Regions from separate parts of the Homo sapiens genome. Here all the other regions are linked to region 4. Evidence: fine-mapped expression QTL. A gene starts in region 4. Each other region holds a variant in brackets. All regions are shown on one strand. Distances are from middle to middle.

The links. PIP is the estimated chance that this variant, and not a neighbour inherited with it, causes the effect.
Region 1: its variant is the best candidate, but not a certain one, in a credible set for the expression of CTNNBL1 in whole blood (TOPMed, PIP 0.61).
Region 2: its variant is the best candidate, but not a certain one, in a credible set for the expression of CTNNBL1 in whole blood (INTERVAL, PIP 0.74).
Region 3: its variant is the best candidate, but not a certain one, in a credible set for the expression of CTNNBL1 in thyroid (GTEx, PIP 0.66).
Region 5: its variant is the best candidate, but not a certain one, in a credible set for the expression of CTNNBL1 in prostate (GTEx, PIP 0.60).

The regions. Positions count from the first base shown.
Region 1 is chr20:37,737,844-37,742,950 of GRCh38, reverse strand. The region is part of intron 3 of CTNNBL1 (catenin beta like 1); the gene reads right to left. Among named protein-coding and RNA genes, the nearest start is that of CTNNBL1, 46 kb to the right of the region's middle. The variant T/A (reference allele first, on the strand shown) is at 2,852.
Region 2 is chr20:37,796,234-37,801,340 of GRCh38, reverse strand. All of the region lies in intron 10 of CTNNBL1 (catenin beta like 1), which reads right to left. Among named protein-coding and RNA genes, the nearest start is that of VSTM2L, 100 kb to the left of the region's middle. The variant C/A (reference allele first, on the strand shown) is at 2,450.
Region 3 is chr20:37,757,529-37,762,635 of GRCh38, reverse strand. CTNNBL1 (catenin beta like 1) reads right to left here. Exons shown (of 16, transcript NM_030877.5): 5 at 4,980-5,077. Among named protein-coding and RNA genes, the nearest start is that of CTNNBL1, 66 kb to the right of the region's middle. The variant T/C (reference allele first, on the strand shown) is at 2,862.
Region 4 is chr20:37,690,960-37,696,066 of GRCh38, reverse strand. It overlaps CTNNBL1 (catenin beta like 1), which reads right to left and starts at 2,037. Exons shown (of 16, transcript NM_030877.5): 1 at 1,915-2,037. The coding sequence starts at 1,944. It overlaps LOC105372609 (a long non-coding RNA gene), which reads left to right and starts at 4,791. Exons shown (of 4, transcript XR_936703.1): 1 at 4,791-4,884. RefSeq lists an enhancer at 1,700-1,759.
Region 5 is chr20:37,784,750-37,789,856 of GRCh38, reverse strand. The region is part of intron 10 of CTNNBL1 (catenin beta like 1); the gene reads right to left. Among named protein-coding and RNA genes, the nearest start is that of CTNNBL1, 93 kb to the right of the region's middle. RefSeq lists enhancers at 198-1,397, 3,113-3,612, 3,613-4,114. The variant G/A (reference allele first, on the strand shown) is at 2,452.

The sequences.
Region 1 (5,107 bases), 47 kb before region 4:
ACACTTGTAATCCCAGCTACTCGAGAAGCTGAGGCAGGAGAATTGCTTGAACCTGGGAGGTGGAGGTTGCAGTGAGCTAAGATCGTGCCACTGCACTCCAGCCTCGGCAATGCAGTGAGACTCTGTCTCAAAAAATAAATAAATAAAGTAATTGAACGATTGTTAGTCACCTGGAGGGGTCTGTCCTTAGGCCTGTTTAGATCAAGTATTTTATTATTTTTTTTTAATCAATAACATGAGCAAAGATAGATAAAGGGCAAAATGAAAAAATGTTATATGACACAAAGCTTAAAGAGACAGTAAGCACAGCAGCTGACAGAATCAATTCAAAAGTTCCTGACAGGCAATAATGATGTGCCAAATCTAACCAAAGGAAAAATACCTGGGATCCACACAGAAAACTGCAATGAACCAAAAAGTCAAGTACAAATGTAAAGGCTGGGAGAGATACAGTTTCATAAGGGCACATGTGTTTCTTTCTGAACTTGATGGCTTTATTGAACCATAACTGTAATACAAATCAGAACATGAGCCAGTTCTGCCAGAGACAATTTCTTATTCATCTCTGGACATCCAGCACCTGACGCAGGCCTTGGTCCAACACAGAAACTTGGGAGATGCCTGTAAATGGGGGCACAGATGAAAACAGCTGCCACAAGTGCTACGGTGGTTTTAGGGTACTTAAAAGAGGACAATACAGAGTTATGCTGATTCAATGACCCTAAAACTTTGTGACATCTGTTCAAGGAACCATCTTTTAGGAGGGATGTGGAAACCAATTCAGGGAAACAACCAAGATTCTAAGGAGTCTAGATACATCTCATATAAGAATTTGTTGAAATGCTTTCTCATTCTGAGTTGAAATTTTAAGAGTCAAAGCTGCCAAATGATGGAATAGCTTTCTTTGGAAAGTTAGATCCTTCTCACTGGGATAGTTAATAAAGGATGACATTAAAAAAAAAAATACCAAGAGTTAGATGGTAGAATAGACTGTGCTTCTCAGTTCCTTCCAACTTTGAAATTCTTCTTCCAAATATGGTCTTAACCCAGTGCTTTTAAGTTTAGGAAGTCAGAAAATTATCAAAATAAAACAAACAAGCAGAGAATAAAACTGCAAGCAGGGAAATATTACAAAAATATACTGGGTCCAGTGTTATGTGAGTAACAAGATACCGTGAGAAATGCTGGACTTGGGAATGAGACTGACCTGGGTCATACTCCCAGCCATGCTATTTACTAGAGGTGTGGCCATGAACAGTGAATTGACAAATATTTACTAGGCACATACTAGGTGCCAGTCACTGTGTTAGGCACTGAGGATATAACAGATAAAATAATCCCAGTTTCTGGCCTCCATTAAATATAAATAATCTATTACAAACCATTAATTATAAGCATGCCTGGTACTACCAAGAGAAGTGTCACTGGAACACAGAGCGTGGTGTCCCAACCTGATCAAGGAAGACACAGAATATTAACTAACTTATTGCTAGACCCTGATTTCCTTATCTTCCTATAGTGAGGATTAAAAGAGATAATATATATACAGTGCCTAATAATAGCTGGCACATACAAGTACTCAATGAATCTATGTACCCTCAAGTTTGTTATAACAGTCGTCTTCTGTTTTGCCTGACCAAGCACAGCCTACTCATGAGCCTACTCATTTAAAGCACACACTACTATTTGCAGAGAACTGTCTTTAGGAATTAGGCATACCTTCAGCAATAGATGACTCACAGCTGGGGGAAAGGATAAAGTTAGAGGTGACGGGAAAGCAATAGAGCAACATATTAAAACAGTAACCCAGGCTGAGATGGGGTCATCGATTCCATCTAATATGACAGAGAATATTTTCCTAGGCTGCCCATGTGCATTTGCTTCAGACCAGCAGGATATTCTCCTTCAACCACAAGGGTGAATATCAGCAAATGACCAGCAAAGTTCAAAAACACTGGGAAAGCCACAGAAATTGGTAAGTCCTAAATGCAATCACTGCTGGGGGAACATGATGCTCCCTCCATCCAAGTAAATCAGCAGTTCTCAAAGTGTAGTCCTAGGACCCCAGGATGGGGTAGCGGGGTGGCTGGAGATCCTTTCAGGGAATTATAAGATCAAAACTATTTTATAATAAATCTAAGACACCATTTGCCTTTTTCACTCTCATTCTTTCAGGAGTGTACAATGGAGTTTTCTGAAGGGCTCCATGACATGATGACATCACTGCCCTGATGGCTAATGAAATGTGTGCTTGTCTATTCTTGTATTTGCCAGAATTTTCTAAGCACTTTGGGATATTCAATAATTTAAGAGTACAAGGAGATCCTGAGACCAAAAAGGTTGAAAATCAGTAAACTAAGTAATTCTGTCCCTGCAAAAATGAAGAGAAGAACTATTAAAGGACTTTCTAGGGAAACAGCACACTCTAGTCAATGTGGTGTTTAGGAGAAAGATCAGGCAGTGCAAATTGGAGGGTGCATAAGGAGAACTGTCAACTGAATCTCAAATGCAGTCAAATGAAGAGAGGCATTTTTGGGTATGCGATCAAAATGACAATTGGATATATGGGAAAATAAATTTGAATGTTTCTGATCTCAACCGGAAAGTTTCATCCGAATACACTCTAGCAATTTTCATCTTAATTTCACCTCGCTGATCTAGAGAATTACGAAAGACACTGCACCAGTGAGAATTCAAGAACTCAAGGTTAAAACACAATGTAGTTTCCTAACTGCTTTTCGACATGAAAAAAAAAAGTTCTTTATGCACAATTTCAATTTTCATATGCTCAGATTTTAAAACTAAAATAGTATATACATTTTGTCTGAATGGAAAACACTACCGATTTTTT[T/A]AAATAAAATCACATTGTCTTAAACCCAGTTAATGAACTGTAACACTAAGGTACCTAAGATGTAGATGGTGAACATAACCTGCAGAAACTCTGCTCCAAATTGAGAGACGTGTATCTACCAAGCGGGCGAAGGAAATACTGGTGTTCAAAGAAGTAAACTGAATTTCTTAAATTTCCAGTATCATTACCCGCAGCATAGCTTCCTCATAATGTATCCTTAGGTTCAAGCAATGGGGATGTAATAAAGACGACAGGGACTACATGAGCTCTCTCATGTTTACTGAACACCTACAGCAAGGCAAGTACTGTGGTAGGCACTAGAGACAAACAAGACACCGTCCATCTCCTAAAAGGAACAGAGTCTAATGCAGGAACCACTGAGTACAGAAATAACAACAAAACAAATGGCAAAGATGTTAAAGACTGATCACATGCATTGTGGGCAAGAACACAAGAAAAGAGATGCTGCTGCTGGGGGGAGAATTTAAAAATACAGTGAGAAAATTGGCAGTAGCTATCATTAAAATGTACATACCCTTCAATCTGGGAATTCAAAATTTAGGTATCTATCCTATGGAAATATATGCACACAAAGACACATGTACAAGTAGGTTCACTATAGCATTTTTCATAAAAGCCGATTTTAAAATAATCAAATGTCCATTAATAGAAAATAATTAAATAAGTCATGGTATTTCCAAACCATGAAATACTATGCACCAATTAAAAAAACACAAGGTAGATATGCATGTACCACCTGGACAGATCTGTTAGATGACCCAAAAAATCAAGGTGCAGAATATGCACAGTATGATTTAAGTAGAAACAAATACATTTGCATAATTAACTGTTCACAAGGTTCCTCTAGGCAGAGGAATGGAAAGGGATCAGAGTAGTGAAGGAAAACTTTCATTTTTCACTCTACTCATGTACCACTGGTATTTTCAGAATGACAATCTATTCATGCATTACTTGTGTAATTACACACACACACACACACACACACACACACACACACACAGTGCTCCTGTATGGTGGAGATCAGTACAAAACCTGATAGGACTCTAATGCTGGATAAGCTGGGCCCTGATCTATTAATAGCTACTCCTACTATCAAAGAGGGCTGTGGCCCTAGGCCCAGTAACCACATTCTCCCCACTCTGCCTTCTCATCCACAGCACAGGGACAACATAGTTGACCACGCTGGCCTCTCTAGGTTGCCATGAAGACTCTGTGCCCGCTGACACCTCTGTGCCTTTGTTCATGCTCCTCATATTGCCTGGCATGCCTTCCTGTGTTCTTTTCCGCCTAATAAAAATGAATCTTCAAGGCCCAGCTCAACTACTATCTTTTCTGTGACACCCTCAATAGCCCCCAACTTGGTATTTACTGTTTCTTCTCCTATTATATCTCTTTTAAAGTGTCTGTTTCCTTCTACCTTGCCTTTATAGTCAGTCTCCCTAGTAACCTAAAAACTTGAGTGCAAAGCCTGTACTACTCAATTGTTAATTGCCTGGGGGCCTTGGGCATATTAAGATTCATTAAAATTGTATGTCCTGGGAGGGACAAAGATAGGGAAAGAAAGAGAGGTTTAGAACATTAAAATCGTATAAATGTGAAAGTCCCCTTGGTTAGGATTCAAGACTGACTGAAAGATGCCAGATTCCTCACATAGCACTTCATAGTGCACCAAGGTGCCAGTGTAGTAAAACTCACGTTAACTATCATCTCATGGGCACCTACTATGTGCCAGGTACTAAGCTAAACACTTACATTATTCTCCTTTAATCTTCATACAACCCTGTGAGGAAGGCATTATTTCCTTATACAGATGAGACACCCAAGGCTAAGAAAGGGGAAGTAACTTATTCAAAGGGATGTGTGTATCACACCAATATCTGTCTAACTTCAGAGCCTCTGAAATGATCTCCACAGTAAAGCTATCACTAACGGCAGGCACGATCAGTCTTCTTTGGGCACTGAAAAGAATAATGCAGGAGAGTTAATATGTTAACTGCGGGGCTGATCTTGAAAAGGGCTAGCTTACAAGGCTGGCCCTAGGCTGGCAGCCAGGAATTTGGCTTTTGAAATGTTCCCTAAGTGATAAGGTTGCTGCTTTGTCAGCCCGGGGCACTGAACAGCTGCTTTCCTTCCAGGAGCCTACAATTTTGGTTGTTATTGTTATTACAGGCAGAGAATGCCTACATGACCAGTCCTCCATAAAAACCCTGAACTCAGAGTCTGAAATGGGCTTCC
Region 2 (5,107 bases), 110 kb before region 4:
AATATTTACTGGGCAACTACTTAGCACTGTGGTAGACACAAGAGAAAACAGTAAGAAATGGGTTCTGCTTCCAAAAAAAAAAGCTAAATCTGGGGAGACCAAAGTAATATGAAAGGATCAGAGAAAAGTATAAATCAGCATATAATTTTCCCCATGTATTATTCAATCTACAAATATTTACTGGATAACTCTCACATGATTGGGAAAGATTGCGTCCCAGTTCTCAAGCAATTTACATTCTCAAGGCAGGAGACAAAGAGAAATTGAGATACCTGATAATGGTTAGTGTCAAGGAAGTAAAACGAGGACATGTGAAGGAATGACTGGCGTGGATCTCTTAGATTCAGTTATTAAGGAAAGCCTCCTAAGGAGTAACATTGTGTTGAGAACTGAGTGATAAGATGAATCAGTCATGTAAATTTTAGGGGCAAAACAACATTCAAGACAGGAGGAACAGCAAGCACAGAGGTCCTGAAATAGAAATGAACTGTAGACAGGCGACTGGTGTGTTTGAGGTACGCCAAGGAGCAGAGTGTTCCTAGCTTCGATCAGGGAGGGAAACATGGGCTGTATCAAAGGCCACAAGGCATCCAAGTGAAGAAGTGATTCCAGGAGTAAAGTGGATGCAATTCAACATGTTGGTTCTGAGATTGCCATGTGTTACATTAAAGTGAGAGAGACAAATTACATGTATTTGGGAGAGTGTGGGGAAAGAATAATATACATGTAAATATTTAAAATAAATGAACAAAAAACTAGGTAACAAAATAATAAGTACAGTGGGCACACAAGCAGGGAATACTTTAGTTAGAGGAAGGAGACAGTTTCTGAAGAGATTCCAGTCTGTCAAAAAAGCAAAATAAACGGCCACCAGATTTCACCATCAGGAAGCCACTAGCAACCTTCCAGAGAGCAGTGGTAGGGCAGAAGTGGAGTGAAAAGTAAAAGGAGGTGAGAAAGTAAGAAGGGTGAGTGTAGGTTACGCCTTAGTAAAGCCTGGAGGAGGAACCCCAAGAGAGGGAAGCCGGGTCAAGATTTAAACTACTACTTTTAAGAAAAGCTAATGGTGATGTGGAGACCAAAGATAAACAAGGGAGAAATAAACAGCTGGAGAGAGGTGACTGGTCTTGCAAGAGAAGGCAGTATTCATCAAAAACAGGGTAACAACCCAGAGCCTTTCATCCAATTTCTCATGTGAAAGCCAAAGAAAAGGAATCAGAAATAATATCCCCTTTGGACAGTCTTTTGCAGACACAACACTATTAAAACCCTGCACTATTAAAGTGCTACTGGTCACAAAGAGTGCTATCCTGGGTCAGACTAGCCAGCCAGGACTGGGTCCCAATAGTGGAGGAAAGGTGAGTAGGTACAAAGCTTGCTGATAGTGCCCCTTGGAGCTACAGGCCATCCTGGTTTACTTAGGACTGTTCCACTGAAAGTAACACATCCCAGACTTCTCAATCCTGGGCAAAGAGAGAGCGTTGGCCATCCTACTTCATGCTAACCTATTCCTATCTTTATTTCCCTTGTGGATCAATCAAACAATACAAAGATTCACAAATGCCCATCAATCCAACTACTGAGTTTCAAAGAAAAAAAGGCATATACTATTGAGCATATGTCTTTATGCAGCAGACATTATGCTAGCTGCTAGGAGTTATAAGGTCCTTGTCTTTAAGCAATGTAAGAAGAGGTAAATAAAAATGCTTTCAAAAGTCTGAAGCAATGGAAATTAAGTCCAAGATGATGAGAAGAGGAGATAATTTGCCTTGGGAGAAGTCAGTGAAGGTGTCAAATGGCAGGTGACTTCTGCACCGAGTCTAAGGAATGAGTATTTGCCAGGCAGAGAACGAAGAGCAAGGACACTGTTGGGAGTGGTGGCTGTACAGCATGTGCAAAGGTGTGTGCAGCCTGTAGGAGCGTGCCAGCCAGGGAACTAGAGGTAGTTCCGAATGGCCAGTGGTGGAAGATGACTGAGGAGAGGCGGCGAGGAACACGGTCATGACAGGCTCCACACGTGCTGTCAGGGAACCCAGGCTCCATCCTGTAGATGTCGAGAAGGCATGAGAATTTCAAACAAGGGAGGGCCCTGGACAGATACATTTTAGAAGGCTTAATCTGGCAGCAATGTGAAGAAGGGACGGGAATGACACCGCTTGGGGGTAAGGGAGGACAGTTAGGAGACTCTGGCAACAACAAAAATGAGAAATGACCAAAGGTTCTGACTACAGCAATGGTATGAAAAAGGCCTATTTGAGAGAAGCATGAAATCTTAAATATGAGGAGCCAGGTAAACAAGGCTCCAAATTCAGTACGAAGGGATTTTTTGTATTAAGATGAAAATTCTAACAGAGACTTGTTTTCACTGCAGCTGGACTTCAGCATCTTACAAGCTTGAATTTATAAAAGTCATGACTAGGACAGATAACCATGTGAGCAAAATTTAGGA[C/A]ATTGAGATATAATATCTGTATTGTTTAGTCACTCAGGAAAAGGCCTCTTGAAATGAATGGCGGTCATAAAATAGGGCACCTTCAGTTACCATTCAGCATACGCTCAAACCATTTCACAAATAACACAGAACTGTTTGAAATACAATTCAAAAGACTCTGGTGTAGCCAAGCCTCTCTTTTTTTTTCCTGCCTAAGCAAATTCAACAAACAAAAGATTTTAAAAGTAAAATCCTTCTTGAGGTAGGCAGTGTAAGACATGTTTAGAGGGGGCAGTAATTGCATATTGATCACCACTTAGGCAAGCAGCATGGAGGTGAACTTTGGAATATTCACTGGGCTTGAGTTCAGGCTTTTAGAAATCAATAGCTGTTTGGCCTGCCTTTCTTGGGTTGACTTTATTTGAAATATTTATTCTACTGGAGGACAAGTAGTTTATCTTAGTCTTGTCTGGGTTCATCAGGCTGTCGATCACGCCAGAACCAATGTGAATGCTAGCCTCTATAAAACTGGGGGGTTGTGGGAAATGGTGGAGAGTCATCCACTGCTCCCTATTCTGCTAACAGTGAGCCTTCTGATGTGGGAGAAAACGTTTTCTGTTGTAGTTTTAATTAGCTTATTCTTCTTTATTATGCAAAAACACTTTTGCTATAAACACAGATTCTGAGTATGATTTTCTTTGTTCATTTGTTCCCTCATCAAATATTTATGAGGTACCTAGCAGGTGCCAGATATTAAGTCCAGGATGCAGAGACAAGGCACAGCTCATTGCTTCCAAGGAGTCTGGTCCACAGGGGAGACAGACATGCAGAGAATGGGCAGACTGAGAAAAGCTAAGTCCTACGGTGGAGGTATATACAAAGCAGAGTGAACGCAGGAAGGAGGGCTGACCATGTCTGAGTCAGGGAGGACTTAAAAAGGAGATGATGCCTGAACCAAGCTGCAGGGGATGTTTTTCTTGGATACGCAAAGAGGGAGAGGGTATTTCATGCAGAAGGAAACAAGAGCACATGCAAAGACAGGCGTTAAGCATGGGACATTTAGGGAAGTGGAGCATGGTACTGCTAGAATATAAAGAGTAAGAAGAGGGGCAGCAGCAAAACAGAAGACAGGCTGACTTTTGTGTATAAGAAAGATTATGCTTGCCACAGTGTGTTGGACAGTAACAGGGATGGGGGAGCAGAAGGAAGAGAGAAACAATATCAGAGGCAGAAAGACTGGTAAGAAAGGCGGGGGTGCGAAGGGTTGAGTTCTGATTGAACCTGAGATGCCTGTGGAACACGGCGTGATGTCCAGCTTGAACTTTTATGTCTGAAGCCCAATAATGAAGTCACCAATAGGGAAAATTTTGAAAGAGTCATCAAATCTATGTGCAGTAATTAATCCATGGTGTGAGTAAGATTACCCTGGGAGGGTACAGAAAGTATTCAGAACAGAAGACTAGGACCTTGAAGGAAACTTATTTGAAGGACAAATGAAAGAGGTAAAACCCTCTCCTTTCCTGGACAAGGGAGACTGATTAAAAAAAAAAAAAAAAAAGCAACAAGGTGTTCTTTAAAATATTCTGTGAACCATAAACTAATCGTGGCAAGAAATACAGATAATGCCACATGAGATCATATTTTCTTTGCTTTACAACGTGCATGATGAAGTTCACTTACATTAGAGTCTGAAATACAAGATCACTTTACAGGATTCAGGATTTCTATGAATTAGACAGTAAGATCAATAGGACCACAGCCAGAGGGTGGGGTGGGTGGAAAAAGAAAAACAGAAACAAAAAATAAATAAATAATAAATACGACCACAGGCAATTTCAAGTTACTAATATGGTATCACTAAATGCAGTGATAGGAAGAGATGTGCACCATCAGCTCTCATGAACCTACATGAGCCGGCTCCAACACATCACTACCCATATCACCCCCACCGCCCGCCACAGACTTCACACTTGGCCATGTGACTGTGCACAGCCAATAAACCGTGAATGTAAGTAACATGTGCACTTCAGAGGAGAAGTTTTAAGATTTATTGCATTATGCGGTCTCTTCCCTCTACCATGAGACAGGCATGTACCATGAAGCACTGCTCCTTCAGCCTGAGTCCTGAAATAAAGAAGGTGTAGAGCTGAGCTTCTGACGGCCAGTGATGAATGAACCATGAGTGAAAAATAAACACCTGTCATTGAAAGTCCTTGAAATTTTGGGCTTCTTATTCCAACAAATAACCATGTTATGACTGAGGCCTGATATGTGATAGAGCAAAGTTGCTAAATATAAGATCAATATACAAGTTAATTGCATTACTACCCACCAGGAATAAAGAATAAGAAAATGTAGCTTAAAAAGTGTCATATACTGCTGGACTTCCACTCTGGGCCAAAATGGGGTAACAAGGACTGGATTTACACCCTCCCTAACCCTGAAAGTTAAAAAAAAAAAAAAAAAGATGAACAAAACAATGGTTTTTAGACACTTGACATCAGGAGGGTAACACATGCAATGAGCCCAACTGACTGCCTGGAAAGTTTCCAGGCCTCAGAGAAGGGAGGAGACAGAGCTAGGAGTCCGGCAGAGCAATGCAGCTAGAGTTCACAGCAGAGAGCTGCACGGAGATCTGCAGAGGGCCCCTTCCAGTCTCCAGAACTGACAAGCGCAAGC
Region 3 (5,107 bases), 67 kb before region 4:
CTGTGACAAAGTCTGAAACTAAAAACAAATCCTGCTTAGGGATTAAAGCATCAGCCAGGGCAACCCTTGCCTTGGAAATCAGGACTGTCTGGGGTGTGATGTTTTCTGCTAAGTCATTTGTTATTTCTGATTGTTAGCAGGCATCCCAAACAATATTCCGGGAGTTAAAGTTCAAGGGCATGATCACACATCATCTTCCACTTGACCAAAGAGGATGGATATAAGAGAAGAGGAGGAAATAAAAAAGAGACAGATGAGAGGGTTTGAAGGAGGCTTCTTTTTCTATCTGGTACGATCTGCCAATAAGCTTTCTCAAGAATGAGATTGGGATTTTTCTGCCTACTAGGAGTTTCAGGAATTTCATATTTAAAACACAGTAATAACAATAAAACCCCACACCCACTGAATCTTGATCAAACAAGTTTTGAGAATAATATGGTAACATGGTCATAATGCAAAACTCAGGCCTGTTGTATCCTAGCTGTAACCTTTTAGCTTCCATTCTTGCCCCTCCAGTCCATTATCCACACAGCAGCTAGATGCTCTGTTTAAAATGCTGTCAGGCTATGACACCACTCCCCTGCTTATATCTTCTAATTACTTCCCTTCACCCTGGCAATGCCACCCAACCTCTTCACCAAGGCCCACAGAGCCCAGCGTGGTCTGGCCCTGACTCTGCTTTCTCCCCTCGCCCCAGCTGCACATTAACAAGACTGGCCCCTTCTCTGTTCCTTGAATATGTCAACCTCAGTCTTGCCTTAGGTCTTCTGCCCTTTTCCCATCCTGCTCTTGATCATTTTGAATGGCTGGTTTCTTCCAGAACTCAGGCCTTGCCTGACTATTTAATCCAACCTGACTTCCCAGCTACTCTACATCACATCACTCTATTTTAATTCTCTTAAACAGAGAACCACTCTCTGATAGTTTTCTTGTTTATGTATCTACTGTCTCTCCCTACACTCATACCTTGTGAGCTCCACAAAAGCAGAGGCTTTGTCAGGCTTGCTCACAGCTATATAGCTGGTTCCTACAATCAGGAACACATCAAGCATTCAATAAACATTTAGTGAACAAATGAACAAATGAATTTTGCTTTGGAACAAATACAGATGAAGGTGAGAACATGAATGGAAATGGGAAGGAATAGAATCCAGGAATTTTCATAGTAAGTACCCTTACAGCAACATAAACCTGGCCAACCTCAGCCTCACCTGGGCAGCACAAATCCATTGCCAACCAAGTCCAAGGCAAACCAAGATAGGGCTTCAAAGTTTAACATTTCAGTAGAGTTAATTTAGTGCAGGAATGAGTATGGAGGGTAGTCCCCTGGCAGTCCACATCAAAGCCACTTTTTGTGGAACTCTATAAAGCGTTTCTATAAAGCAAATGCTGGCTCCTAGACACTGGCCAGCTACACCACCCAGCCACACTTCCATCTCTGTTGGCTGGGACACCTCCATATGCTCTCATATTAAAGCCCCCTTTCAGAGGCCATCACCGATGCCTGCATCTCTGCAGCCCTTCCTGATTATTCCATCAGAAGCGAGCACTCTCTCTTCATGTCCACAGAACACTGCCCCTCTCATAGCTGTTTTCAATGTTCTGCCTTGTATTATCATTACTTACTTCTTCCTTTTTTTTTTTTTTTAAACTAAAGCTCTATCCTCTCATTTCTTATTTAGGCCCACCCCATCCAAATGTGGTTTTATTGAGTGTTTGTTCAAAATGTTTTTGAAATATTTTTTAAACTGAAAAAAATGTTTGTGAACTCAATATTCACAGACATCTCACTGTGTGGTAGATGATACATACAATTTTAACCTGACATTTGCTAAATGCTTAATATCTGCCAGGCATAGTACCTTTATAATGATAATGGCCAACATTTATCAGGTGTTTACTCTGTGCCAGACTGTTCTAAAGACTTATTAAATATCTCACTTGTTCATCACTTTGGTACTGTATGATAGGCACTACTGTTATCTCCATTTTACAGAGAAAGAAACAGTATGGAGAGGTTAGTAACTTTCCCAAGGACACAGAATTGGTAAATGACAAAGTCACTGCTCTGACCACTCCCCTGACGGGGATCACACCTCAGGAAGGACAAACTTATAAACAGACATCTATAATCCAATGTGACAAGTGCCAGAATGTACAAAGTGCTAGAACAACACATCCTGCTGAGGTGATGAGTCTGGAAAAAACTCAAAAGGGAAGAGATAAAGGGATGAGAGGTAGTATTCCAGGTAGCCCCAGAGAAGCAAGGCTAGGCAAGTGGAAGGCAAAGCATGAGCGAAGGCATGGGACTACCTAGCACATGGCAAGTTTGGGGACTGGCAAGTAGAAAAATGACTGTAATTTAATCATCATTCTCAAGAAGTCCAAAGTCATCTTTGGAGAGGTAAGCCAGAGAATTGCCATCAAAGCAATATACCCTCTCGCTTACCACTCTTCAGAAAAGAGTCCATTTTCCAGGCTACCAGATCAACTTGTTACAAAGCACAAATATTTGCCTTTTGCGTAAGTAACAGCAGTGGATATGAACCAAATTTTAAAACCCCGAAGATCCCTGAGAATGCCAGGACAGTGTTCTTTCCCCACAAATGTGCCATCCTATTGCTTAGGACTTCCAACTGGGAAAAAGACCAAAGCAATAACTGCAAACTGCACACCACAATAAATTCTGCCACATGCCCTCTAGCCTCTGCTCGTGCAATTCTAGGCCTCAGATATTGGCCTCAAATTAAAACTACAAAGACAACTCAACCCTTGTAATATGAGAGTACTTATCAAATTTCTTCCTGAATGCAGCCAAGAGTAAAAAAAGTAAATGGAAGACCACCGCTGGTTCTGTTCTC[T/C]GATATTTACTGATGACTTCCGACTGGTTGCAGACAAGCAAATAATCTACTGGAGTCCAGGAATGTTCAATGCTTGTGATTCCTACCAGCCCCACCAGGATAAACCTGTAAGAGTCAAAATCTTAAACTAATATAATAATAATAAAAATAAAAACTAAACTAAACAAACAGAACATCCTGTATAGCAGTTACCTAGTGGCTCCCCAGACTGAGGGTGAACTGTTTCTTTCCAAACAAACAATAAAATCTGCCAAGATGCAGCTTTTGTCAGTGGGCTTGACAACACAGAAAAAACAAAGGGGGCTTTTGAGTGAATTGCTGTTTCTGGGTATGTTTTACATGCAACAGCCAGGCTAGCTGTTCCTCTCTCGTCTTCCCTATTCAGACAGGCAAAGGATGGTAATTAAAATCAGCCCAGGGACCAAGCAGGAAGGCTCATTCAGGGCCATGTAATTAACCTCTGGAAGGTAAGACTGCACAAACGACACTGCAGGGACACAGAGTAGGAGCAAGTGCCACAGTCTTTCCTCAGACGCCCCTCAAAACAAAACGACATCCCAACATCATCCTCTTCTTTCTGCACAGTGGTTCAAACGAAAAATAAATGCCCTGAATTCTACAAAAGTAGCAGTTTGCTCTCTAAAGGAGCCTGAAAGAAAAATGGCCATAGAAATTTTCATTATATTCGGTCATAAATGGCCCTGCTGGACACTAGCCTCACTCTCTGTAAGAGCCAGTTCTTCATAACCAGTGGGTTCACAACCCCTTCATTCACACCAAATGCCAACAGCAAGCACGGCACATGGGAAATTTCTAGTGTCGAGAACATTATGAGAAAGGGTGAGGAGGGGGTGGGCAGTGTAGCAGTGGGGTTTCGGGATCATCTGGGACCCCAGGCCCAGCCATTCTGATTCAGTGGGTCTTGGGTAGGACTAGAAAGTAGCCAAACAAGCAGCCCAGGTGCTTCTAATACTAGTGGCTGGAGTAATCTTTGATCAACTGCTAACTGAGTCAAAACCAATACTAACATTCTTACCAGAGAGAAAAGACAAGAGAAACAACAGAAGAAGAACAATCCACAGAGCCTTGAGGAGGGATACAGCTCTGCAGGTGGACAGAGCTCCACAGGTGGTATCAGGGTAGGGGCTGGACTAGATGCACTTCTGCCGCTGGCCAGCTGGGGTGCCTTTGCAGCTTTGTGGCCCTTTCTGATCACCAGTGAACTGGGGAATCTGGGGCAGTGGAAACAGAATTGTGTTGGGGATCAGAACATGCAGTCTCTTTTATCAGCTGTCACAGGACGGGCTGAGCGACCCAGCGGGAGGCTTCACTTCTGCAGCTGGGTTTCCTCACATGTAAGGCAGTTTGCCTAGCTGGCACCTGGTCACAGCTGCGCCTCACAGACCAACTCCTCTGGGTTAGCTGCTGTGTGGATCAATAGCTAAGGAACATTCTGAGGCCTTGCCTAGGCTCCTCAAAAGATGGCAGAAATCAACTGCCTTGTCGTCTACAGGCAGGGAATGCCATTCTGGCCTCAATGAGCTATAAAGTTTGTTCTTATTTTCGACATTCTCCAATTCCTCTCTGATGACCTATCTGTAAAATAAGTAATAATAATAATACCTGTTCTCACTGGCACTTGGGATTAGAAAGTCCAGATGAGAAAAACATTTGTGAAAGCTCTTTGTAAAAAGGTCAGTAGCAACAAAAGAGAGGAGGGAAGAAAGGGGCAGAAAACATAGAGTCTAGGAGACCACAGGTTCAAATCCTGGCTGTGTGACCATGGGCCATTTGTTTGGCCTAAGTCACAGCTTCATGGCTGTAAATGGAAATAATAGCAATAATGCCCATGTGAGAGGATGTGGTGAGAAGAATGAGAAATGGCCCTGCCCACAGCAGAGACTTAATAAGGGCGAGGCCTCTACCTGACACAGTCCCAAAGCATAAAGCACTGCCCCAGCCACATCTCTACTTTTTTACTCTCCTTATTCACTCCAGCCTCACCACACTCCAGCCTTGCCGTGGAGTTCCACCTGGTGGCCACTCTCCGAGACGATGGTGGTGGCAATGCCAACAACTTATACAAACCTGCAAAACCCCAGAGGATGTGCAACTTACCAGAGCATCGATGAGCACTTCTGCTCCCTCTTCACTCTCATGGAGGGTGTCTATATCTGTTAATTCCTGAAGCAAATCGACCACAGCTATGGACACATGTGAAAAATGTTAAGGGTATAACACACATA
Region 4 (5,107 bases):
ATTCTAGAAATTCCAAGCCGGCATACAATCACTGATTTAATAACTTGCCTATTTCCCTTCATCTTTCACTATCAATTAAACTGTCTTTAAAAGAAAAATCTCTTGGCTATATAGCTCCCCATTGCTGAACTGTTCTTTCCCATGATGTCTTAAGCGTCCAGGGTCAATTTCTTGTACTTTGGCTGAGGGAGTGGTATGAAAATAACTGCTAATATTTACTGAATGTTTACTCTTTGGCAAGCATTGTCTAAGGACTTTCCATTTCTCAACAGCTTCACAACAGCCCTGTGAGGCAGCTACCGTCACTGTCCCCCATTTACAGATGAAGAAACCAAGGCAGAGAGAAATTAAGTATTTTGTTCAAGGTTACAGCAGCCAGTTAGTAGCAAAACAGAGACTGCCAGCAACCTAGGGGTCCAGACTCATGGCTCTTAATCACCTATTCTTGACTGCAGGGCTGTCTAACAAAAATATAAGCTGAACTATATATGTTGTTTTAAATTTTCTAGTAAACACATTAAAATGTCAAGAGGGGCAGTTAAAATTGGTTTTAAACATATTTTATTGGCTGAGTGTGGTGTGTGGTGGCTCATACCTGTAATCCCAGCACTTTGGGAGGCCAAGTGGGAAGACTGCTTGAGGCTAGGAGTTTGAGACCATCTTGGGCAACATAGCAAGACCCTGTCTCTACAAAAAATTTAAAAATCAGCCAAGCATAGTGATGCCTGCCTGCAGTCCTAGCTACTTGGGAGGATACCTTAGACCTAGGAGTTTAAGGCTACTGTGAGCAATGATTGTGCCACTGCACTCCAGCATGGGCGACAGAGCAAGATCCTGTCTCTAAATAACAATAAAATAAAATTTTAAAAATTAATTAAGTATATTTTATTTCACCCATTATCCAAAATATGATCATTTAATCAATATGACCAATAACCAATGTAATTGATATAATCAGTACGATCATGTAATCAATATAAAAATTTCACTTTTTCCATACTAGTCTCCAACCCAAATGTGTCTTTATACTTACAGTATTTCTCAATTCAGACTAGTCACATTTCAAGCAATCAACAGCCTATGTGGCTAGTGGCTACGACATTCGGCAGTGCAGCTCTACTGCTCCTCGCAATGACCCTCCTATGGAATCAAAGTGGGGGAAAAACTTTGGGGTGGAAGTCAGTACGCCTGAGCTCAAATTCCAGCTCCTTGTTTCTGAGTGACTTTGGACAAGCCCTTTCTGCTCTCTAGGTCCCATACAGTTTCCCCACAAGTTTCCTAGGCAAGGGGGACCCTGAGCAAGATTCCTAGAAACTCATTCCATGCTAGAATTCCCAACATCTCCTGCAAATCGCAGTAAACACAAGCACAGCTTTCCACACTTTAAAACCAGCTTTCATACATATCAGTTGGTACAGTCCTCAAACAACCCTACTAAGGCAGTTATTAGTGTCTCCACTATATAGATACAAAAACTTGGTTCAAAGAGGGGGGGAATGACTTGTCCAAAAGCCACATAGCCAGTCAGTGGAGAAGCTGGAGATCAAATCCAAGTGAGACCAGTGCACTCCCACCGCCGCCACCACCATCACCTCAATGACTGGGGGGACATGAGAGCTGAGAGGACATGGTTGTGAAAAAAAGGATAGTCTGGGGTTTCAGAGGAGTTTCAGGGAACCAGGCCCCAGGGTGAGGAAGAGGAGGTGAAGGGCTCAGGTCTTGAGAAGGGATGAATCGAAAGGGCCCAGGAGGGCTTCGGAGAGCAAAGTAAAACGAGGGGCTGAGACCCCGGGTGGCATGAGAAGTTAGAGGGCCCGGGAGTGAGGCGAGAGGAGGTGAGATGAAAGGGCTCTGGCTCCTGCGACCCCTGCCCAGGTGAGAACGCGGTCGCTCGGCCCTCCCTGCCCCTCATACCTGGTAGCTCAGAAGTTCGCCCACGTCCATGGTACCCGGCCCAGCAAATACTCCACTTCCCTGCACTCACGCCCAGACCGCGGGCCCGTCAGCCGCGGCTCCAGCCACACTGCCGTAAAGTGCGGCGAGCGGAGCCGCAGAGCCAATAGGGCAAAAGTGCGAGCGACAAGCGAGCCGGCCACACCGCGGTAAAAGGACGCGCCGCCGTAAAGCGCGCTGCATTTGGAACAGGGTTGCTTCCGCCTGGAGCCTGAGGGGGCGGGGAAAGGGGGCGGAGACTTAGAGGAGGGGCGGGAGGGGAGAGCAGGGACCAGAAGAAACCAAACTTGATTGCGCGTCCCTAGTGTCCAGGGCGGAGTGCCGGGTGTTTCGTGTGCGCTCTCACGAGCTTCCAGTGATTTATCCTCATTTCACAGAAAAGGAAACTGACGCTCCCAACTGCACCATCCAATACTTTACTCACTAGCCACATATGGCTACCGAGCGCTTGAGATATGGCTACTCCGAAGTGAGATGTGCCATAAGTGTAAATAAAATACACACCAGATTTCTAAGACTTACATTGATTACAGGTTGAAATGATATTTTGGATATACTGGGTCAAATTCATATATTATAAAATGAATTTTACCTGTTTCTCTTTACTTCTTAAATGTGGTTAGTAGAAAGTTTTAAATTACACATGTGGCTCTCATTTGTGGTTCCCATTAATTTCTATCAGATAGTGCTGGCTCAAAAAGTGACTTGTTCCAAGGCTGTACAACTATTACTGGCTGAGAAACTATTGGTGATCACATGTCCCTCTCTAGGCTTGTGTCTGCTCATCTATGCGAAGTCTAACGGTCACTAGATGATCCCCTTGCTACCCAGGTGATATAAAAAGGTTTCTGGAGGAGAAAGTTGCCCATAATTGGAAGAGAATCATTCAGAGTGCATCTGATCTTAAACAAGATCAGAATGCACCTGGGACTTAAGGCTCCATCTTCAAAGGAAATTAAACCTCCTTCCATAAGCCCCTGTCCTTTATATTTATAATTATATTTATGTATTATATTATATTTATATGCCCTTCATATTTATAATTTTGGTCCCCATCCCATCTGCACTGGCTCCAATTATACAGAAATTATTCTTATTCCTCAGAATGACAAATCCTCTCCCCTTCTGCCTGGCCATCAGCACCATACCTCATCCAATTCTCTCATCTTTCGGGTCTCAAATGTCACTTTCTTACAAGGGCTTCTTCAACTCACCCTGGTCCAGGTAATCAACCTCTCTCCTCATTATTCTTTTTCCAAGTACCTGCTCCACTACGTATATATCTCATTCTGTAATTTTGTGCTTAATGGTTGACTATTTGTTTCTTGACAGCCTCATTTACTGGATTGCAAGCTCTATGCAAGCAGGACATGTGTGTGTCATGTTCACCACTGTATCCCCCAAGCCTAGTACAGTGCCTGGTAGAGGGAGAGGTTTCATAATGGGCCTTGTGTGCCATGGTAAAGAGATTAGATTTTGGCTAGGCGTGGCCGGGCGTGGTGGCTCACGCCTGTAAGCTCAGCACTTTAGGAGGCCAAGGCGGGCAGATCACTTGAAGTCAGGAGTTTGAGACCAGCCTGACCACCATGGTGAAACCTCGTCTCTACTAAAAATTACAAAAATTAGCTGGGCATGGTGGCACATGCCTCTACTTGGGAGGCTGAAGCAGGAGAATCGCTTGAACCCAGGAGGCAGAGGCTGTAGTGAGCTGAGATTCCACCACTGCACTCCAGCCTGGGTGACAGAGCAAGACTCTGTCTCAAAAAAAAAAAAAAAAAAAAGAGAGAGAGATTGGATTTTATGCTAACGGCATAAGGAAAGTTTTAAGCAAGGTAGTTTTGTGACTGGGCTTATGTTTTTAAAGGATCACCTATGCAATCTGCATTGAATTCAGTCTATTTGGGTGTCTTTCCCCCTCCTACTTATATAAGAATATGGACTGTGCCCGGCCGGGTGTGGTAGCTCACGCCTGTAATCCCAGCACTTTGGGAGGCCGAGGAGGGCAGATCACGAGGTCAGGAGATTGAGATCTTCCTGGCCCACATGGTGAAAACCCATCTCTACTAAAATACAAAAAATTAGCCAGGTGTGGTGGCACGTGCCTGTAGTCCCAGCTACTTGGGAGGCTGAGGCAGGGGAATCGCTTGAACCAGGGAGGTGGAGATTGTAGTGAGCCAAGATGGCACCACTGCACTCCAGCCTGGCGACAGAGCAAGACTACGTCTCAAAAAAAAAAAAAAAAAATAGAATATAGACTGTGCCTTGTTTGGGAAGACAGGAGAGAGTAATGGTGAGGGTGTACCCTTTGGACCCAGACCCCTGTGTTCTAGTTCATGGTATGTTGATGCCAGCTTGCACAGACAGGTCTACAAAAGCCCATGGTTAAATTTGTAGGAAACTTGCAAGCTGATTGACACCAGGTTGATAGCTTGAAATCAGCCATGCTAGGAGTATTTGTACAATGTAAATCAGCAAATGCTACAAATCAGGGTTGTTAATGTTGTTGTTTTTCCAGAGAGCTACTTGTAGGGTTTTTTTGTTTCTTTGTTTGCTTTTGAGACAAGCTCGGGCTCTATCACCCAGGCTGGAGTGCAGTGGCGGGATCTCAGCTCACTGCAACCTCCCCCTCCCGGGCTGAAGCCCACCTCAGCCTCCCAAATAGCTAGGACTACAGGCGTGCGCCACCATGCCTGGCTTATTTTGTTGTTGTTGTTGTTGTTGCTGTTGTTGTAGAAATAGAGTTTCACCATGCTGCCCAGGCTGGTCTCAAACTCATGAGCTCAAGCAATCCCCCCGCCTTGGCCTCACAAAGTGCTGGGATTACAGGCATGAGCCACTGCACCCAGCCGAGCCAGTTGTTAAACATCTACCCAACACACCCTGATTCTGGTTCTAGTGGAAGTTCCACCATATCTAGCCATGGGTCCTTGGGTAAGTTACTTTCTCTGTCCCTAAATTACACTTTCCTTATCTGTAACATGACTCATTCATTCATTCATTCATTCAACAAGTATTTACTGAGAGCCTACTCAATGCTAGGCACAATTCTGGGCTCTGAGGATATGGAAGTTTATAAAACAAAGCTCCTGCCTTCTGGAAACCTACATTCTAGTTTGGGTGAAAACCTCATGGAGAAAATGTTGATATGAGTCTT
Region 5 (5,107 bases), 94 kb before region 4:
ATAAGCTTCATGTCAACATTTTCAAGGAAACTGACAATATAATTCTTTTGTCTCCCACTGGCTCTGTTGCTCCTTACAGAACATTGAAGTATTCTGATACAAGGACATACTGTTAAAAAGTGCTTTGTGGTGGCAAGAAGCAAATGATTTAGAGTGCAGGCTATAATTAAACCTGATATATTGGAATCTTCTATTTGTAGCAACCATCTTACCAAAGAGAGGTATCTGTAACAAAGAAACGGAAGTGGCAAACCAGTCTCCCTCCAGGGACAATGAGGGCACTGTTACAGTTCCATCCTCATTTCCTGACTAATTCTAAAATGGCCACCCCAGGTAAGTATAATTTTGTCTTATTTTTGTGGATTGGAACCTCTGAATCTGATCACTTTGTTAAACAGCACAATAAATTGTGACTTTTCTGAATTTTATTTTACTCTCAAACATCACAGACTACAAAACTACCACTTCATTCATGTTCATATGTTAATTCTTCTGCTGCTCACCAAAGACCATCCAAACATCCTTACTGTAACCTAACTGTTGACTATCCAACTGAAAGAAGCAGGCTGAGCTGCCCGATGCACAAAGGAGCATTTCCTTCTACATCAGAGACTCTGGTCCTCTCCGCCTTTCAGTACACAGTTGTCCACTGCTTGAGAGGTTCTGCGTCTTCCACCCTTACCTCATCTTTTCTTTTCATTTATCAAGACACTAATGTGAGCAAATGAGAAATTCCTTTTCTTTTTTTTTGGTTCCTGTACTCTAGGATGGCTACCCGCTGCTTTCTTCACAGCACGAGTTCCACTTTTAAACATCACCTCAACAATCTTTTCTTCTTTTCCAAGATGTCTTCATCTGTCCTTTGGCAAAGAGAGAAAAACAAGAAAGCTTTTCTTCTTATTGATTCTGTCAAGCACTGTGAAATCCAGACAGTTTGAACACAGGAATGGAGAAAAGTCACCTGTGTGACAGGGAAAACTAGAGGAGAGAGGGCTGTGAGGTAAGGGCGAGTAGGTAATAGTGCTTCACAAACAGCTCCTGGAAATGAAAGCTCAGAGACTACAAATCTGCATGAAGGACTTCTTAGAACCTTGAGAAGAAAGGTGATAAGAACTGAAAACCTAATATAATCCTAAATACCTGGGAGGATAACGGAAGAAGAGAGTTGAAAGGCAAAGGAGAATAAGCTCATTTGGGGAGCTTATGCAGCTTCTGTTCTGAAGCCCAGCATGGGCACAGGCCAAACAGGGCAGGAGCCCAGGACTCGAGTGGACTCCTAGCCTCCCCTGAGCCTCAAGATCAGGATTACAACACACTATGGCCCCGTTTTGTGCTTTCCATGCACTGAAAAATTTGACAGGGAAAACAGAACTAAATATGTTCAGGCAAGAGACTGAGTTCTCGGCAACAGGCTTTTTAACTCCTCTTCCTTTGGGTCTATGAACACGGTTTGCCAAAAATTCCGTGGGCCAATGATCCTAAACAGCAAAATGTTTCTCATTAATTTAGAAAATTAAGAAACCAAACACAGAAAACCAAAGGTGTATCTTTTGCTAGATACTGGAGATACAGAGGAAGAAGACTCTGTCTCTACTCTGAAAAGTATTACAGTACAATTGAAGACACAGCCGTACAACTTACCATGCATGGTGCAGAAAGTGCTCTGACAGAGGCAGCAAAGGATGCTAGCACCCAACCTTCAAAACTTAGGGGTGGGGATGTGAGGACAGACGTGGGGGAAGAGACATGGAAGAAAATGGCTGCTTAGAGAAGTTTAAGCCTAAACATCAAAAGTGAGTCATCAAAATAATAATAATAACAAAATGTGTCAAGGGATCTAAAATAGTTTGGTTTAGAGAGTGGAATGTAAATGTGCAGAAAGGAAAGAATGAAAGAGATGGCAGTAGGAGGATGAGGCAGAGGCCAGATCTTGAGGGGACTAGAAACAATTTCAAACGTTCATAGACAAAGAAATAAAGCCACATTTCTAAAAAACTAAAGGTAATCACTAATAGAAAGAATAGTATTTTCCAAATCTCCAAAGAAGAAGGAAAATAATGGAAGTGAAAAAAAGATAAGACAAAACAATAAAACAACCAAGGAAACCATAAAACAAACAGGAAAAGGGCTAAACGTAATTACTATAAAATCAAATAGTTAAATTCATCTACTGAAAGACAAACTTTCACGCTGGATTAAAAAACACAGTTATGGGCCGGGCGCGGTGGCTCACGCCTGTAATCCCAGCACTTTGGGAGGCCAAGGCGTGCGGATCACGAGGTCAGGAGATCGAGACCATCCCGGCTAAAACGGTGAAACCCCGTCTCTACTAAAAATACAAAAAATTAGCCGGGCGTAGTGGCGGGCGCCTGTAGTCCCAGCTACTTGGGAGGCTGAGGCAGGAGAATGGCGTGAACCCGGGAGGCGGAGCTTGCAGTGAGCCGAGATCCC[G/A]CCACTGCACTCCAGCCTGGGCGACAGAGCGAGACTCCGTCTCAAAAAAAAAAAAAAAAAAACACACAGTTATGTGTCTTTAACAAGAGTTACACGTAACACAAAATGACATAAAAAGTAAAGGTGTGTGGTAGCAGGTGCCTATAATCTCAGCTACTTGGAAGGATCATCATATCCCAAGACTTCAACGCTGCAGTGCACTGTGATTGCCTCCTGTGAACAGCCACTGCACTTCAGCCTGGGCAACATAGTGGAATCCTGTCTCTTAAAAAAAAAAAAAATGCTAAGGATATAGGAAGGATCAGAAGAAACAGAAAAAAAAAAATCCACAACCATAGTTAGAGACTAAACAAATTAGGGGATAAAAAGGACAGAAAAGAACGGAATATGTTTACAAAGTTGATTTATGTTATAATTATAGTACTTTATACCCTAGAAACACAAATTCTATTCAAATGTTCACGGAATATTTATAAAAACTACCCAAGTATAAGGCCACAAACAAAATCTCAAATTCAGAAATGTATTTTATAGCCTCTATTTTCTGTTAATGTAATAGGAAAATAAGACTTAATCACTTGGGAATAGAGAATAAAACTAAGCAATATTAAAAGGAGATTTTTTAACCTGAAATGTTTTTATTTTTAAATAAGAGAATTATTTTTTAAAGCATTAAGCGTTTAACTCACAAACTTGGAAAAAGGGCAACAGAATAAACAAAAAAGTAGAAAAAAAGAATTAAAGGCGGGGGAAAGGTATACAAATATACAAAATGCTACAAGCATTGTAGACCATATATATACAAATACACATATGCATATTTATATCACACATATATGCATATATATATATATGTACACACATACATATGCATATTTATATCAAAACCAAGAGTTGGTTCTCTAAAAAAAGATGCCCTCCAAAAAAAACAAATCCAATTGGTGCCAGCTCAGTCGCAATAGAGTAAAGCATCAGGTAGATTTCTAAGGTTCCCAAGTCCAGGCTCTGGCTCTCAGATGGCATCTGTAGAGCTGCCTGGGGCTGGGGGGAACTTGCTGTCCTGAAGGGAAGGACACAAGCCTGGCTGGACTTGCCACCTGTTGACTGTAGAGCCTTTGGGCCATGAATGAACACAGGCAGCAGCCAGGCAGTGGTCAATGTGAGCCTTGGGTGAAACCAAGTGCTGTGCTGGCTTCAGGAATGACCCAGCACAGTCCCAGTGGTGGCCACAGTGGTGCTTGCTTGTCTCACCCCTCCCCCAGCACCAGGCAGCTCAGCACAGAGAGAGAGAGAGACTCCACGTGTTTGGGGAAAAGTCAGGGAAGAGAACAAGAGTTTCTGCCTAGTAATCCAGGGAATTCTCTTCGATTTTACCCAACACCACCAAGGTGGTACCTCTACAAGTCTACAAGAGCCAGAGTGTTACTGAGCTTGGGATGCCCCCTAATGCAGACACAGCTGCTGTGACCAAAGACTTAAATCACAACACCCAAGACTCTCTAAATACCTGGAAAGCCTTCCCAAGAAGGATGAATACAAACAAGCCCAGACTGCAAAGACTACAATAAATACCTAACTCTTCAATGCCCAGACACCGACAAAGATCCATAAGCATCAAGACCGTCCAAGAAAACATGACCTCAACAAATGAACTAAGTAAGAGACCAGTGACAATGCCAGCAAGACAGAGATATGTGAGCTTTCAGATAAAAAATTCAAAATAGCGTTTTGAGGAAGCTTTATGAAATTTGAGATAACACAGAAGGAACGCAAAATCCTATTACATTTTACGGATATTGAAATAGTTAAAATGAATCAAGCAGAAAAATGCAACATACTGAAGAATGCATCAGAGTCTCTTAACAGCAGAACTGATAAAGGAGAAGAAAGAATTAGTAAGCTTGAAGACAGGCTATTTGAAAATACAGTCAAAGACAAAAGAAAAAAAGAATAAGAAAGAACGAAGCACACCTACAAGATCTAGACAATAGCCTCAAAAGGGCAAATCAAATAGTTACTGGCCTTAAAGAGGAGATAGAGATATTGGGGTAGAAAGTCTTTTCCAAGGGATAATCAGAGAGAACTTCCCAAACTTAGAGAAAGATATCAATATGCAAGAACAAAAGGTTACAAAACCCCATCAAGCAGATTTAACCCAAAGAAGACTACCTCAAGGCATTTAATAACCAAACTCCCAAATGTCAAGGATAAACAAAGGATCCTAAAAGCAGCAAGAGAAAAGAAATAATATATACAATGGAGTTCCAATATGTCTGGCAGCAGACTTCTCAGTGGAAACCTTACAGGCCAGGGAAGAGTGGCATGACATATTTAAAGGGGAAGAGTGGCATGACATATTTAAAGTGCTGAAGGAACTATATTTTACCCTAGAATAGTATATCTAGTGAAAATATCCTCCAAACATGAGGGAGAAATAAAGACTTTCCCAGACAAACAAAAGCTGAGGGATTTCATCAACACCAGACCCATCCTACAAGAAATGCTAAAGGTAGTTCTTCAATCTGAAAGAAAAGGATGCCAATGAGCAATAAGAAATCACCTGAAGGTACAAAACCCACTGGTAACCATAAGTACACAGAAAAACACAGAATATTATAACACTGTAATTGTGGCGTATAAACTACACATACCTTGA